2 linked regions of the Homo sapiens genome follow. The protein of the gene in region 1 interacts with the protein of each later gene in a pairwise test. Each region holds a gene or a part of one and is shown in the gene's direction. Other genes may lie near its edges.

Region 1 (8,414 bases):
TGTGGAGGCTTAAAAAGTTGATCTTATAAAAGTAGAGAGTAAAATAGTGGCTAGTAGTGGCTGAGAAGTGTCAGGAGAAGGGGGCATAGCCAAAGGTTGATTAAAAAATACAAAAGTAGTCGGCCAGGCACAGTGGCTCACGCCTGTAATCCCAGCACTTTGGGAGGCCGAGGCGGGCAGATCACGAGGTCAAGAGAATGAGACCATCCTGGCCAACGTGGTGAAACCCCATCTGTACTAAAAATACATAAATATACAAAAATTAGCTGGGCATGGTGGCGCACACCTGTAGTCCCAGCTACTTGGGAGGCTGAGACAGGAGAATCGCTTGAACCTGGGAGGTAGAGGTTGCAGTGAGCCGAGATGGTGCCACTGCACTCCAGCCTGATGACAGAGCAAGACTCTGTCTCAAATAAATAAATAAATAAATAAATAAATAAATAAATAAATAAATAAAAATAAATAAAAAACAAATACAAAAGTACAGCTAGTTAGGAGGAATGAGTCTAGTGTTCCATAGCACTGCAGGGTGACTATAATTAACAATTTATAGTATGTTTCAAATAGCTAAACGAGCAGATTTTGAATGTTCTCAGCACAAATAAATGATAAATGAGGCAATAGATAAGCTAATTATCTGATTTGATCACTACACATTGTATACATGCAATGGAAATATCACACTGTACCCATAAATATGTACAATTATTATGTGTCAGTTGAAAACAATTTTACAAAACACACATTTGCATGTTTATTCTTAGGTTTTTACAGTTCTTTAATCTTATTTATTCACCTATTTTTTTGAGACAAGGTCTTGATAGGGTCTTGCTTTGTCGCCCAGACTATACTGCAGTGGCACAATCACAGCTCACTGCAGCCTTGACCTTCCACACTCAAACAATCCTAAGTTTCACCTTTTGACCTACACAGACTAATTGTATTACATTTTAATGTGAAGTCTCCACCCTGAAGTGAACTTGGGACCATGTAACATGAATGTTTGCTTACCACACAACCTAGCAAGCCCCTTTCACAAATATTCATAGCTCCTCCTATAACCTATTAAATATGTATGTTTAGCCAACCTGTTTAGCATAAAACTCCTCTCCCACCCTTCTTCCTTCAAAGTGCCTACTTTCTGTCTCAGCCAGAGGGTCTGCTTCCCAGGCTGTGGGTTGCAACTCTTCTCAGAAATAAAGTTCTCCTTTCCAAATTTAAGATCTTGTGATCTTTATTTTGACATATGAGATTTCCCTAGCCGGTTTTTAGTCCATCCCTGAAAGACTGAATGGTTAGATCTTTGATATCTTTCTCAAGTACCTCCCATTTGACCTCAGCCATCCATTTTCAAGTATCACCAGTCCCAGTATCATATGAATAAATTGGGAAAGATCAAGGAATCATGGATCATATACTCCAGGAGAATTTTTTACCTCCAAGAAAATTTCTGGGGGCTTTCCTTTGAAACCTTTCACTGTTGCTCTGAACTCAAAAGATTTCTGAACAAGGCATAACAGTGATTAAAGAAGCAGACTTATTAATCTGAGGGCCTAACTATATAAGGCATTTGTTTAGCTTTCTTTTTGTCTTTGGGGTAGGAAGGTAACTGAGATAAGAAGTTAGGAGATTCTGAGTAGGCAGAGAAGGATAGAAAGATAGAATGTACAGTGAGTTCAATACATCAAAATACAATTTTTTTTCTCATAAATTAGCTGCTTAAGTTTTTCATTTGCTTTTTGTAAGAAGTCATTTAGAAAGGCAATTTTTGGTTCATTTAACCTTTTAGAAGCCTCTGCATGTCAATCAAAATACATCCTTTTGTTTCTGAGGTGTTTTTTGTCCTTTCTTAATATTTTATTTTATTCCTTTCAGACCTAGTCCTGCAAATATCCTTTCTTTTCTAATGTCTTGCAAGTGAACAATTTTATCTAGGTTAAAACTTCCTCACTTTGACCACTGTTAACTCTTAGATTACCTTTGGTAGGTTCACCCATTTCTCTGGAAAAGTGCAGACTCTGGGTTCATAGGTTCTTATACATGAAATTGGCTGGAGTTCCAGGTGGAGGAGTTTCAGACTCCTTGGATCCAAATGAAGGCATCATTCCCTGTATTCTCATACCCTTTCCTACCATAAGCCTCCTACTGGACTCAGTCCTGCTCCCATAGGCCTTGTACTGGATCCAGTCCCAGTTTCTGTTGTAACTTCTGGACCCAGCTCAGATCAAAAATGCTCAAATAAACTTTAAGAATTTGACACAAGTTGTAGAGTTTGTATCCAAGCAGGGCCTACAAGTGGCGGCCTCCAAATGTGCAGTGAGAAGCCCTGAGCACAAATGGCTCAGTGTGTGAAGCAGGCCCACGGGCACTGGTTACCAACCTGTTCTGAATTCTCATAAGCAACAATTTACATGTAGTGCATTTATTACCTATAGACAGGTGGTAGGAGACGAAGACTAGGACTCACTGTGAGCCAATCCCCCCAAAGCTCAGAAAGTTGCCCAGGTGGATGAAATCTCTACTGCGTATTCCTCACTTACACCACAGATAAGAGATCCCGAAGAGCAGCCCACCCAGATTACATACCACATGTCACATGAATCACTGGGCTAAAGTGTTGAAGGACCTTCTATTTCTAGGGGAGAACTGGAACAGAGCCTGGGCTACTTCAGCCAGTCCCTCCCTATCTCAGGATGTTGCATCCCAGCTCGTTATGCAGTTACTCTTGAAAACTACAAAGGAAAAGGAGGGAGAAGTGGGTAGGCCCAAGGCTATACAGAGAACTGTCCTGCACAATGAAGCACCTGCATCTGTTTAGTCACTGTTCCCAGAGGTCATCATTGAGGGAATAGGGGGGCCTTCAGATCCCATTTCTGACACCAGAACTGTTAAAAGAGAAACTTTACACAAAACAAATTCGAGTTTATTCGAGCAAGAAAACAATTCATGAATCAGGCAGCATGCAGAAGCAGAAGAGGTTCAGAGAGTTCCACTCAGCAGCATGAGCAGCAAGCTTTTATAGACCCAACACGGAAGCAGAAAAATTACTTGATTGGGTTTTGGTTTGCTTGCATAGGAGCTGGTGTTACAGAGTTGATCTCAAGCTAATGGCCTCCTTATTTGCTTTAGCACCCCACACCTGAACCCAAGGGAAAGCTTGAAGGGAGCCCAGCACCGAAACAAACTAGTAAATGCCTGGGGGCAAACAACAGTGTTTTTATCAAGTAACCATGACACATACATCTTCCTCAGCAGTGGCAGAGCAGTCTTGTAGAGTTAGATAGGAAGATGATGGCCTGGCCACGCATGCTCAGCTGCTGGCCCGGCTCATTCTACAGGTATTAACCAGTATTTGGCCCACAGTGTGCTAAGCACCATTCTAGGTGCTGAGGATGCTAAGGTGACCCCAACAATGTCCCTGATCTCTTAAAGCTAATTCTGGTGGGATGCTGAACACAGGATGTAACCTAAGGTGGTGATGAGAGGTACACAGACAAATCGGAAGGCACAAGTTAGCCACCAGTGAGGGGAAACTCCAGACAACGTAGACACATAAGGCCAGGTGGAGAAATGGATGACTGAGTTAAACTTGGGTAAGGAGCCTGGCAAATGAAGACAGAAGCATGACCCAGTCAGGGGAAACCACAACAAAAGACGTTTGGTGGGAACTGCCTGTTTCTTAATTTCCAAAAATCAGTTAAAGGTTCATATACATTATCTCATTTCAACATCACTGGTAGAAAGATTCCATTTTTATGGAGAGGGGATCTGAGGCCCAGAAAGGAGACGATCTGTCATCGTTTTCCACTCAAGGGCAAACATGGGGATATCCCATCCCATCCCAAAGCCTAAGATTTTGCACTCCAGGCCCTTTGTCTGACCTGAAATTACTGAGCTAAAAGGGACCGAAAGATCCTAATGGAACCACCGATGGGAAAACTGCGGCCCAGGAGGAAACACACCAAGCAAAATTGCACCGTATCCAGGTGGCCAGTCTCCAGACTGGGGTCTCCCTGCCCCGCCAGACCATCTCCCGGCGACAAGGGTCTCAGGTTTCCGAAATCTCGCCACCCGCGAGTGATTTGCAGCGCAGGGGCCTCTGCTGCCTCGGAAACCTTCAAAGGTGGGCGGGTCGGGGACCAAGTCCCCCTAGGGATGGAGAAGGAAACGGGGCCAAGGAAAAGGACATCGCCACCCTGGGCAGAGCACGCACGGCCCCAGCGACTCGGACATGGTGAGGGGCGCGGAGGCTCGGGGTGGACCCGAGGCCTCCACACATGTGGCAGGCTGCAGCAACCCGCCACCCACGAGGACTCGCCCAAGGCCCAGAGCGCGCCGGGCCCCTCCCTCCGACTCCGTCGCCGCCCGACTGGCCGCAGCGGAAGCCGGCGCGCGATCCCACGCTGCGCTTTCGCCACGTCCTGACGGCTGCCCGATAAAACGGACATTAAAATTGCACTTTCCACTGAATACAGCAGCGCCTATTGTGGCGGCACACCTGAATGCGAAAATTAAAGCCAAAATATTTCCTAGCGGCTAAAAGAGCTCCAAGCCTAGGCGAATCTGCCGGTCCGCTCGCCGGAAATGCGGGCTCTCCTGCCGGAAGCTGCCCCTCCACCATTTTGTGGCCCGCTATGGCGGCGGTGTTGAGGTTGGGTACGGGATGCGGGGTCTTTGACTGAAGGGGTAGGCCAAGTGGAGGTATCAGGGACGTCGCGCGGCACAGAAGAGGACCAGCCTGGACGCCGGGGACGCTGTCATGTACGGCGCGAGCGGGGGCCGCGCCAAACCCGAGAGGAAAAGCGGCGCGAAGGAGGAGGCCGGGCCAGGCGGTGCCGGCGGTGGGGGCAGCCGAGTGGAGCTCTTGGTTTTCGGCTATGCCTGCAAGCTGTTCCGGGACGACGAGCGGGCCCTGGCTCAGGAACAGGGACAGCACCTCATCCCCTGGATGGGGGACCACAAGATCCTCATCGACAGGTCGGTTCCTCTCCCCACCCGTCGATCCTTCCCTTCCCTCACCCGCTTGATCTCGTCTGATGTTGACTTGACTGCAAGGACTGCAGAGAGTTTTCTGGAGCCAGCGGGGATCTGGGGGACACCCCCTCCCCTGTCCCCACCTCCTCCTGGTGTTCTGGTGGGGAGGGGGACGGTGAAACCTGCCCTAAGGCACTGGCTGGAATTGCGTGCCGCGTCCGTCTCCGGAGGGATCGTCTCTGGTCCCGCAGCCCCTCTCGACCCCTCACCCTGTCGCTGGGCTGCAGTTGGCGATTCCGCGCGGTGAAAGCAGCCAGTGCCCAGGGTCTTTTCCTGAGTGCACCTGGGCCTGCCGCCCGGCGATGCCATGGGGTCGTGCGCTGCTTTTCTACTTGCCGCGCTCTCACTGCTCGGTGTACTGGGAGGGTACCCTGGGAGGCGTGCCTTTATTCTTCCGAACCGCCGCTCACTGAGACAGTGGCTAGAAGTGTCTCTTGGACCTGTGAGTTAGCCTTAACCTGTTATGCCCCCAGAGCCCTCAGTGGAGCGCCCGTACTTTGCCGGCATGACGTTTGATTTCCCGGTGATAATCCGACGAGTTTGACAGATTGAGGTAGTGAGCAAAGTTGCCCGTCAGTTGGTGGCCACTTGACTTCGTGCGGACCCTGGCCTTGCTCTTGGAAGAGATAGTGTTCTTAGGGCTGGTTTCACTGTCTCTTAAGACTGAAGGGTGGAGCTGGGATATAGATGTGTTGTTTCTTTTCAAATCAAACCTGCTTTAGGTCGTCACTCGAGGGTGTCTAGCGATTATGGGCAGTGGGGGCCTGGGATTAGGGATTTCTAAAGGCGTTTGATTTGAAAAGGATAACATTACATGATGTAGGTGGTTTGCTCCCCTCTTTCTTCCCATTTTTTCAATCCCCCTTCCCCTCGTCTCTGGGTTTTGGGGTTGTTGTGGGGTGGTTTTTTTTCTTTTTTGCCTGTTCGGCTACTTCTGGGGCCCGGACTGAAAAGCTAACCATGACCAACCATTAAACTGTGGAATAGTCTCTCCACGTGAAGAAAGCCCATCGTTTGAGACCATTAAAACTGGATTCTTCATAGCCCTGGAGCATGACTGTAGGGATGACCTCTGAGCTGGCCAGAATGGACACATTAATGACCAAATAGGCCTTTTTCCATCCCTGACGTTTCCTTTTGGAATTAGAGCTCGAAAACGAGAACTGGTGAAGGGAGGGCCGCGGAATCAGATCATGTCTGGATCTGATGGCTCCGTGCTGTGCTCAAGCGTGCTGTGCCTTCACACCATGGTTTATATTGAATGTGTCGCCTGAGTTGTCAGGCTTGCTTTTCCAAAGTGTCACTTGTGTTATTTATCATTAAAGTTTGGTAAGCAATGAAGTCTGAGCTCTTTGTACAGTTTTCCTATCATTCTGTACATGATTTGAGTTAGGTCTTCCAAAACTGGTGGGGAGCAAACGCCGCACATGTACATGTATAATATTTTTAATAATAATCTACATTTGTAAGTTAAGGAGGTTTACATCAAAATCCAATTAATTTTGAAATTTAATGAAATGCAGTAACTTGACTACCTTGGAATTTTGGGCCTTTTTCCTGTAAATGTCTTTTTTGGTCTACATTAATATTTTTGGTTCCCATTACAAAAGTCAGCATTAAAAAAATAAGCAGACTTTTGTTTGTTTCTCTACATTTGTTTTTGAAACCCTAAACCTGAGTGTTTTAAGTAAAGTTCACTAACTCATTCATTTATTATCTGACAGTTACACGTTGACAGCATCCTCATTGAATCCTTTATGTTAAAAGCATAGCAGAAAGTGCTCCCATTACTTATTTGGCCAAACTACTGTTTGGTCCATGCAAGAGAAACATGGAAGTGTCTTCATGTATGTTATTTCCTTGAGGGTATAAAGTTCAGAAGGAAATATTGATACCATATCTTCTAATAGTTTTGCTCTGTTCCCAGTGAACCTCCTTAAACTGCATGTATATGTCACTGTTCCAATGTATGTGTGTCTCTCTATCACGTAACCCAGCACTTATTTCCTCAGCCAAGTGGCTAGGGGGCGAGCCTAGCCAAGATTTTACCTCCAATGGACGCAAGTTTCTTTGGTGAAGATCTCTCCTGAGAGTTCGGGACTAGCAGAAAGAAGCGAGGAAATTTCGACCGTTTGGTTCTTACGGATAGGTATTTATGTATTTGGTTTGTGTGAATGTAAGCTATGATATTTAACTTTTCAGAAAAAAATAATAATTTTTTGCAAGTGGCATTGAATGGTTGACCAAACCATAATGGTAAGAACTGCCAGTGAAGTGGGTACCATTTTTGCTATTAATGGATTGTTTGCCTTTAGTTATAAATGTTATCTTACTGTGGAAAGGAATTTAGAGTTTGTTAAGATAACTTGAGTTTAAAAGTAGGTGAGATATGACTATCCAAATTAAATATAAATCTGGGAAGAGTTTTTATACTTGTTTTAATATTTTTGTTTATTTTAATCGGTAAGTATGTGTGTGTATATATATATACATATATAAAACATCACACACGCACACCAGTCTAGACGTTAATTTCCTTTTATTGACCAGCTTGTTCACATTACAGATATGATGGACGTGGTCACCTGCATGACCTTTCTGAGTACGATGCTGAGTATTCCACGTGGAACAGAGATTATCAGCTGTCTGAAGAGGAGGCGCGAATAGAGGCCCTGTGTGATGAAGAGAGGTATTTAGCCTTGCATACGGACTTGCTTGAGGAGGAGGCAAGGCAAGGTACTGCTCAAGACAAACTTACTTCAGCAACAAACTTTTTAAAATTTTTAAGTATTTAAAAATTTACTCCCATTCATTTTTTTATACTCACTCTTTCTGATATTATCTTGACAGTACCCAGTGGATTGGAAAAACAGGAGTCTTTGCGTTCTGAGAGGACCTCAGGATAGTTTATATATAGAGCCACAAAGAATTTTCCCAGCTTTTGAGGGCAGACTGGGATTTGAAAAAAACAAAAACCAAACTCTTTAACTGTTCTTCTTTAACAGTATCGTATAAATAAAATTGATGTTCTTGTCTTTGCCGTAACAGTCTTTAATACAGTTCTTAATCCCAAAATTTTCTCAGCAGGAAGAAATTTTCCACAAAAGACGTGTATTCAGCTGTCTGTGGGTAAACATGTACTGACAAAAGTACATAATGATAGATATAAAGTGTGAATTTTTAAAACTATTTTACCTCAAAAGTAGGTTGAAAAAAGTATGTTGTATGCTTTACTGATAGCTACAACTTTAGAAATATATAAAGTTTTTCTCAGTAATTTTCTATTTTTGTTGATAAAATTCTCATTTTTATTCAAGAGGAAGAATACAAGCGATTGAGTGAAGCACTAGCAGAGGATGGGAGCTACAATGCCGTGGGGT
Region 2 (8,719 bases), on another chromosome or scaffold:
GCAACATGGCAAAACCCCATCTCTACCAAAAATCACAAAAATTAACTGGGCGTGGTGGGCTGCACCTGTAGTCCCAGCTACTCAGGACTCTGAGGTGGGAGGATCACTTGGGACGGGTAGACAGAGGTTGCAGTGAGCCAAGAGCGCACCATTGCACTCCAGACTGGGCGACAGAGTGAGACTCTGTTTTTAAAAAAAAAAAAAAAAAAGACACACTACAAAACAATACTAATACAATCTAATAATCTGGGTCTTATTGGTGTAAGAACTTTTAAATAGACCAGTGGACTAGAAGAGAGTTCAGGAATAGATACATTGTATATATGGAAACTTAATATAAAATAAAGGTGGCTTCATAAGCCATTCAGGAAAAAATAGTTTACATATGACATTAATGAAACTGGCTTACTCTAAGGAGAAAAATAAAACTGATTTCCTACATGCCACATGCAAATACTATCTTTGGAAGAACTGAAACATAAATACGTAATATAAATCTATGCAGTTAATATGCAAAGGTGACCTAAGGGTGGGTAATAACTTCTTTAAACCTCTAAGTACAAACCATAACACAAAAAAGAAAGGAAATAATTAAATAAAAATTAAGACTTCTGTTCAATGAAGACATTGACAAATGAAATTAACAATTGACAGACTGGGAAAAGATGTTTGCAGTGTCTAAAACCAACGAGGGATTCTTAATACCTAGACATACTATTTTCTATTGCAAATCAGTAAGGAAAAGAAAGGTACCTCAATAGAGACTTGGGCAAAGGATACCAAATGGCAATTTTAAAATAAAGAATGGGCGGGCGCTGTGGCTAATGCCTGTTATGCCAGCACTTTGGGAGGCCGAGGCGGGCAGATCACTTGAGGTCAGGAGTTCGAGACCAGTCTGGCCAATATGGTGAAACCCAATCGCTACTAAAAAATACAAAAACTGGCCAGGCGCGGTAGCTCATGCCTGTAATCCCAGCACTTTGGGAAGCCGAGGCGGGTGGATCACCTGAGGTCGGGAGTTTGAGACCAGCCTGACCAACATGGAGAAACCCCGTCTCTACTAAAAATACAAAATTAGCCGGGCTTGGCGGCACATGCCTGTAATCCCAGCTACTCGGGAGGCTGAGGCAGCAGAATCTCAGGAGGCTGGAAGTTGTGGTAAGCCGAGATCACGCCACTGCACTCCACTCTGGGCAACAAGAGCACAACTCGGTCTCAAAAAAAATAAAAAGTACAAAAATTAGCCAAGCATGGTGGTGGGCACCTGTAATCTTAGCTACTCAGGAGGCTGAGACAGGAGAATCATTTGAACCTGGGAGGCGGAGGTTGCAGTGAGCTGAGATTGCACCATTGCACTCCAGCCTGGATGATAGAGCAAGACTCCGTCTCCAAATAAAATAAAAATAAAAGAAAGAAACTTAAATGCCTATGAGGAGATAAGCCAGCATGTTAGTAATCAGACAAATGATAAATAAAATGAATTGTCATTGTATACCTATCAGACTGGCAAAGTTCAGAAAGTGAAATAACATCCATTATTGGTGGTTGGATGTGACTGCAGAGATCCTCATGCATTGCTAATGTGAGTGTAAATGGGTACACTATTTTGGAGAGCCATTTAGTCACATTACACGTTGTATATGCATAGATGAATACCTAGAAATTCTGTTACTGCATGTGTATGCAAAAGAAATTCTCGGCCAGGCGCGGTGGCTCACGCCTGTAATCCCAGCGCTTTGGGAGGCCAAGATGGGTGAATTACCTGAGGTCAGGAGTTCGAGTCTGATCAATATAGAGAAACCCCGTCTCTACTAAAAATATAAAATTAGCTGGGCGCGGTGGCACACGCCTGTAATCCCAGCTACTCTGGAGGCTGAAGCAGGATAATCACTTGAACCCAGGAGGTGAAGGTTGCAGTGAGCCAAGATTGCGCCATTGCACCTTGCACTCCAGCCTGGGCAACAAGAGTGAAACTCTGTCAAAAGAAAGAGAGAGAGAGAGAGAGAGAAAGAGAGAAAGAAAATTCTCATATAGGTCCTTAAGAGGACAGGTATAAGGATGTCCATTACTGCAGGCATGGACAAATAAAATGTGGTTGGGGCACACCTGGAAAACTGAGCAGCAGTTACAAGCAATGGATTAGATGCACACTGGTACAATGGATGGATCTTAAAAGCCACAGTGCTAAAGAATGTGCTCAGTATGTGTCTATTGTATCTTTATACATATATAAATATTAGAGATGGGCTAGAGTGCAGTAGCTATTCACCATCTTCATTATAGCAGCACTGCAGCCTCTACCTCCTAGGTTCATGGGATCCTCCTGCTTCAGCCTCCCCAGTAGCTAGGACTACAAGTGAGCCCTGTGCCTGGCTTTTTTTTTTTTTTTTTTTTTTTTTTTTGAGTCAGAGTCTTGCTCTGTCACCCAGGCTGGAGTGCAGTGGCATGATCTCGGCTCACTGCAACCTCCACTTCTCAGGTTCAAGTGATTCTCCTGCCTCAGTCTCCCTAGAAGCTGGGACTACAGGTGCCCACCACCACAACTGGCTAATTTTTGTATTTTTAGTAGAGGTGGGGTTTCACCATGTTGACCAGGCTGGTCTCGAACTCCTGACCTCAAATGATCCACCCACCTCGGCCTCCCAAAGTGCTGGGATTGCAGGCATGAGACACTGTGCCCGGCCGGTTTTTTTTCTTTTTCTTTGTAAAATGTGTGCTGCTTATTTTTATTTTATCTTACTTTTTTGAGACAAGTCCCACTATGTCGCCCAGGCTGGTCTCAACCTCCCAGGCTCAGGCGATCCTCCTGCCTCAGCCTCCCAGTTAGCTGAGACTTACAGGTGCCGCCACTGCGCCTGGCTGTGTCTGTCTTAAAACAAAACTTCCATGAATGTCTGTATGTATTTTTTAACAATTGGATTGAGGAAGGGGAATGACTTAAGTCAAATGGATAGGTGAGGATGGCAAGACAGGAAGACATGAACAGACAATACACAAAAGTACACAATTATTTCTGAATAATGGCATTATGAGTGATCATAATGTTATTTTGCACAGTTTCCTCAATGAACTTAATATTAGATTACATTAATCAGAAAAAAGTAAACTTGGCCGGCCGCGGTGGCTCATGCCTGTAATACCAGCTCTTTGGGAGATGGAGGGTCACAAGGTCAGGAGTTCTAGACCAGCCTGGCCAACACAGTGAAACCCTGTCTCTACTAAAAATACAAAAAATTAGCTGGGCATGGTGGTGGGCGTCTGTAGTCCCAGCTACTCAGGAGGCAGAGGCAGGAGAATTGCTTGAACCCAGGAAGCGGAGGTTGCAGTGAGCCAAGATCGCTCCATTGCACTCCAGCCCGGGTGACAGTATGAGACTCTGTCTCAAAAAAAAAAAAAAAAGAAGAGAGAAAAGAAAAAGAAAAAAAAGTAAACTCACATAAAGTAATTAGACTCAGAACCTTTCTGGAGGGGAGCAATCACAACCTTTATTTTCCTCTATGATTATTGTTTATTTGGTTTTCTAGTTCTAGACCCAAAATTGGTCACTTTTTTCCTAGAAAATAATTTATCTCATACAGATTTTCAAGGGGGTAAAGTTGTGTGTAGCATTTGAATAATCATCGTAATAACTCTTCTACAGTCAATTCTTTCTTTAATATGTCTGCTTTTCTTAACTGGAATTTTTGCCTAAGATATTTTTAACAATTTAATAAAAATCAAAGGATACATTGTTCATCAGTCTAAGGTATAGCCTCTCCAGAAATCATCCAAAAATGACAGTTTCATATAAAAAGTTTTTGACTTTCTACAGTAATAAGATTCATATATTTTCTCACTATGTCCAGAAATTCTGGCTGGATTATTTAGGGGGCTGATGTGAGGACTGAATGAGTTAATACATGCTAAGGTGTTAATATATAGTGCCTGACACATAGTAAATGTTCAACTTACTGCTATAATGGACAAAAACTGCTAATAATGATGATATTAGCTACAGACTCCTTTTCTATCAGCCATACCACCCAGCACAGGCCTAGGCAAAAAATACAATATTTAGGTAGATGCTCAGTGACTATGTCAACATTTGAGATTTCCCTTTACACTCAAAATGTAGCTTACTTTATGTTTTCTAAAATATTCTAGGTATTAATTAATTTATTAATTTATTTATTTTGAGACGGAGTCTCACTGTCACCCAGGCTGGAGTGCAGTGGCGTGATCTCAGCTCACTGCCAGCTCTGCCTCATGGGTTCACGCCATTCTCCTGCCTCAGCCTCCCGAGTAGCTAGGACTACAGGTGCCCGCCACCACGCCCGGCTAATTTTTTGTATTTTTAGTAGAGACGGGGTTTCACCGTGTTAGCCAGAATGGTCTCGATCTCTTGACCTCGTGATCCACCTGCCTCAGCCTCCCAAAGTGCTGGGATTGCAGGCGTGAGCCACCGCGCCCAGCCGTATTAATTTTTATTTTTATTTTTCAGAGACTGTGTTGCCCAGGCTGGAGTGTAGACCAGCCTGAGTTTGAGACCAGCCTGAGCAACACAGTGCAACCCTGTCTCTACAAAAACAAAAAATTAACGCAGGCATGGTGGCCCACGCTTGTAGTCAGCTACTCTGGAGACTGGGTGGAAGGATAGGCTGAGCAGGGGAGGTCGAGGCTGCAGTGAGCCATGATCGCGCCACTGCACTCCAGCCTAGGTGACAGAGCGAGATCCTGTCTCAAAAATAAATAAACAAATAAATAATAAAATAAAAATCAGCTGTTGGTTCAACTCAACTTTCTTAATTTTGTTTATGAATGTCTGCCTTTATCTTAATGTTCAGGATTATTTATTTATTTGAGACCGGGTTTCGCTCTGTCGCCCAGGCTGGAGTGCAGTGGCGTGGTCTCGGCTCACTGCAGTCTCCTCCTCCCGGGCTCAAGGGATCATCCCACCTCAGCCCCCCAAGTAGCTGGGATTACAGGCGCGCGCCACCACGCCCGGCTGATTTTTGTATTTTTTTGTAGAGGAAGGGTCTCGCTTTTTTGCCCAGGCTGGTCTTGAACTCCTGGACTCAAGCGATCCGCCTGCCTCGGCCTCCCAAGGTGCTGGGATTTCGGCCGTGAGCCACCGCGCCCGGCCTAATCATGTTCGGGCTTTCTTATTTTCTAATCAATGTATTTAAGGCGATACATTTTCCTCAGAGTGTCGCTTTGACTGCATGCCACAATGTGAATAATGACAGGCAGGGATGTATATTAGGCGCTTATCACAGTTAGTGCTGAATATTGGTTAGTTCCCTTTAACCTTATCCTGTACTTGGCCGACAAGCATGTGTTGGGCGTCCGCCCGACGCCAAGAAGCTCTTTTTCAAAGCCGCTTTCCCTGCGCAGCCCCTGTTCTCCCGCGCGGGCAACTACTCCCGGCCTGGCCGTCACGCCCCCTCACGTCACTCACCGCCCCGCCACGTTCTCATGACACCACGCAGGTGCCAGCAACGAACTCCAGAACCCTCCGTGCCCTTCCGCTTTTCCAAAGGCATCTCTGGGACGACGGCAAGAAAAATAGTTCCTTGACAACTGAGCTCTTTTCAGGAGGAGGCGGGACCAGGCGGGACTTACAGGCGGAACGAAACGGAAGTCCGTGGTCCTTGTAACGGGATTGGGCCCCGCGCTCCCGGGGGGCGGGCTCAGATGGGCGGAGGGATTCATTTTAAGCAACGGGCGGCCCTCCGCCTCCATTGAAGGCGGGGAAATACCGCGGCGCGGACGGTAGTTGCTGTGGTTTCCGTTCTGAGCTCGCAGCTTAGGAGCTGAAGATCGCGGACTTAGCGTTGCCGCGTCCGAGTCCGGCCATCAGTGGCTGCAGATCCGGAGGCCAGGAGCTCAACCACCCTTCTTCGGAACAGGGCCGGCCTGCTGCTGTGCCCTCGACGCTCGGTGCCTGTATCTACTCCGGGGCCTAGGTCGGCTCCGGGGGCGGCTTAGGAGAAGGCCGCCGGCGAGATGTTCAAAAACACGTTCCAGAGCGGCTTCCTCTCCATCCTCTACAGCATCGGCAGCAAGCCTCTGCAAATCTGGGACAAAAAGGTCGGGCTAGGGGCGGCGACGGGGCGGGGTGGAGGGGCTGCACCCCCTCCTCGTCCGGGGGCTGGGGACGGGGAATGGTTGTGTCGAATTGGGGCCTGGGAGAGGCCGAGAGGACGCTGCTGTGCCTTGTCCCCAGCCTGGCGGGACTGGGGCGCGAGGTGGGGGCGTCGTGTAAGCAGCGGAGGAGGTGGGGGGGGGGCGGTGCATGTGGGTGGGCGTGGCTGAGATCTAAGTGTCCTGCAGCTGTGGTGTGGTTAGGACCGCGACCCTCGCTGCTGTCTTGACTTGGTCGGTCAGTCCATTCTTTTGAGCCACTGTTTCCCCACCAATATAATGGGGTTGATGGTGCCCATCTCGTAGCATGAAATGCACGAACTTATTTGAAGGAGCTTTGGGGATGTAAAGATGAAAGGACCTGCTATTCACGAATTCCAAATATTTACTGATATCCGTTTTTGTGCCAGGCACGGTGCTGGGCACTAGACACAGAGCCTTTGTTCAGGCACCCTTACAGAGGAGCAGACAGAAAGACTCCGGCCAAGCCAGTGATGTTTAAATTGCATTCATTTGCTCCCTTCCTCCCACTGATCCCAAATAAGTCAGAATTCAGTGGCCCTTGGCACCTGCTCCACACTCACTGTGACTTGCCTGTACTATGCCCTCGGTGCCTGATTTCTCCATCAGGAAAACTGCAGAATGCTGACAGTCAAAGTCTTGTTTGGATTAATAAACTCAGAGCCAAGTACAGGCCTCATCTTTATTCAGGCATCCACTAGATGATATGTGTTTGGCCCCACGAGATGATGAATCTGTTTTTTGCAGATGTGAAGAAAGATCTAGCTGTCTATGAATTGGTCTGCATTTTATTACTTTGGTATTTCGTTCTTCATGCAAATTCCCAGGCAATCAGCTGTACTATTTCTTGAATATAAGTTACGGGAGGCACTCCAATGTGAAATTTAAGTCATATTCTTAGTACTGCTCTCTGGGAGAATGGCGAGTGTGGGTATGCCGAATGCTGCTTTTTAGAGAGATGCATGTGGAATAATCTCAGTAGGATTTATTGGTAATGAAGCCAAGAATTTTGAATTTTATCTTGGAACACGTCTCTGTATTCCCTTATCCACACATGAGAGCTCTTTATGAGGGCCACATAAAGTTGGGAGAGAACATGAGCAGCTTTCTGCCTGTCACCACTAGGGAACTCTGCGTTCTGAGGGCAGCTTTTAGGATGGTGTGTCCATAGTGTTACTTTCATAAGATAGTTGAAAAATCTGAATATAATGAAGTTGGGCCTTTGTGTATGTAAAATCTGCCCATCTCTTCTCTTTCAGATGATTCTATCCACAAGCTAGAGCTAGTGCCAGAGTACAGGAAAGCAGTTCCTTAACGTTGCTGCGTTACTGAGGTTTTTAGTTTCATGTATTTTTTCACAATGGAATAAAGCATTGTAAACTGTAAATTGCATCTGTACAAAGAGAGCCCAGGGTGCCTGGGAACTCCGTAAGGAGGTTGGCTTCCCAGCTGTCACTTGACTCAGTTATGGGCTGTCAGAAGGCATGAAGAGAGGGGGGCCCTCTGTGCCAGTGGAATTTGGAAACTGAATTGTAACAAAGTGTCAGTATAAGGCAATTGAAATCGAGAATGGGACTTGACCTAGGAGGAGAGGTTTTCAGAGCAGATAGAGAACTTACTAAAGCTGAAAGAATTCCAGTAGTAGGGAGGCCTCAGAATTTCTGTTACGAAACTTGTATCAGTTTTCCATTTTAACCCTTCTGGGCTTGATCTTGTGTGCTGTGTTTTATTTTTCAAATGAGGCTTTTTGAATAGTCAACATGTTTACCCAAGAATATAAAAGCATAGTAACCATGGTGCACTGTGTCCCTTAACAACGCCACTAGAGGTCGGATGGTACCCTAATGACATAAACACGTGTGAAAACATTGTTAAATCGATTGGCATGGTTACTTGGAGTAAATTAAACAGACATTTTGGCAAAACCTTTAGAACACTCATTTCAAGCAAAATCTTCACAACGGTAAAAGCTAATTTTGTGTTTCTAACTCTTCTTATTTAGACTCAATTGAAAAATATTTAGAATTGAGGATTTTTCCCCTCTTGGGGCAAGGGAAGGAAAGAGAAGAAAAAGGAAAGTTTGGGGCCGTATCCCTCAGCTTTGTCGTGTGTGCTTTTTCTCAGCTATGTCTGCATAAAGTGCTGGAAATTCAATCCAGTAGGGGGAACACTGGGAATTGATGTACTTATCAAAGATTTATTGAGCGACAGCTTAGTGACAGGCTTTGTGTAGACTTGGGAAGATAGAGAAAATATTTTTCCTGCTGCCAGGGACTAAGGCAAAGTTGTAATAAGGACAGAGTTTGTGGGGAGGTGAGGACTGTCTACATTTAGCTAGACATGACCTTGACTTTTGCCAGTAGGTATATATTGACTGTGGTACCTATTTATAGTTATTTTTATTTCAGAAAACTTTGTTGTTTTCTTTCATGAGTATATATAGAGAGAATTTCTGTTCGGTTTCTATGAAGAATCTTGAGAAATTTGGTTTGACTTTTGTTTAGGCTCTGTCTGCATAGAAGTGAACGCTGTATTCACAGTACCAGTGAATTTGCAAGCTTCCCTTTTGTGAAGA

Evidence for each region.
Region 2: the proteins of SFSWAP (region 1) and CFAP20 interact in binary tests that used the Homo sapiens proteins (3 or more experiments, as listed by UniProt).

What each region holds. Positions count from the first base shown.
Region 1 is NC_000012.12:131,706,471-131,714,884, forward strand, and holds the start of SFSWAP (splicing factor, suppressor of white-apricot homolog), read left to right. Parts: upstream 1-4,619; 5' UTR 4,620-4,759; coding exon 4,760-4,977; exon of another isoform or gene 4,978-7,600; coding exon 7,601-7,770; intron 7,771-8,351; coding exon 8,352-8,414.
Region 2 is NC_000016.10:58,126,382-58,135,100, reverse strand, and holds the start of CFAP20 (cilia- and flagella-associated protein 20), read left to right. Parts: upstream 1-5,719; 5' UTR 5,720-5,985; coding exon 5,986-6,069; exon of another isoform or gene 6,070-6,217; intron 6,218-8,719. UniProt on the Homo sapiens protein: Cilium- and flagellum-specific protein that plays a role in axonemal structure organization and motility. Microtubule inner protein (MIP) part of the dynein-decorated doublet microtubules (DMTs) in cilia axoneme, which is required for motile cilia beating.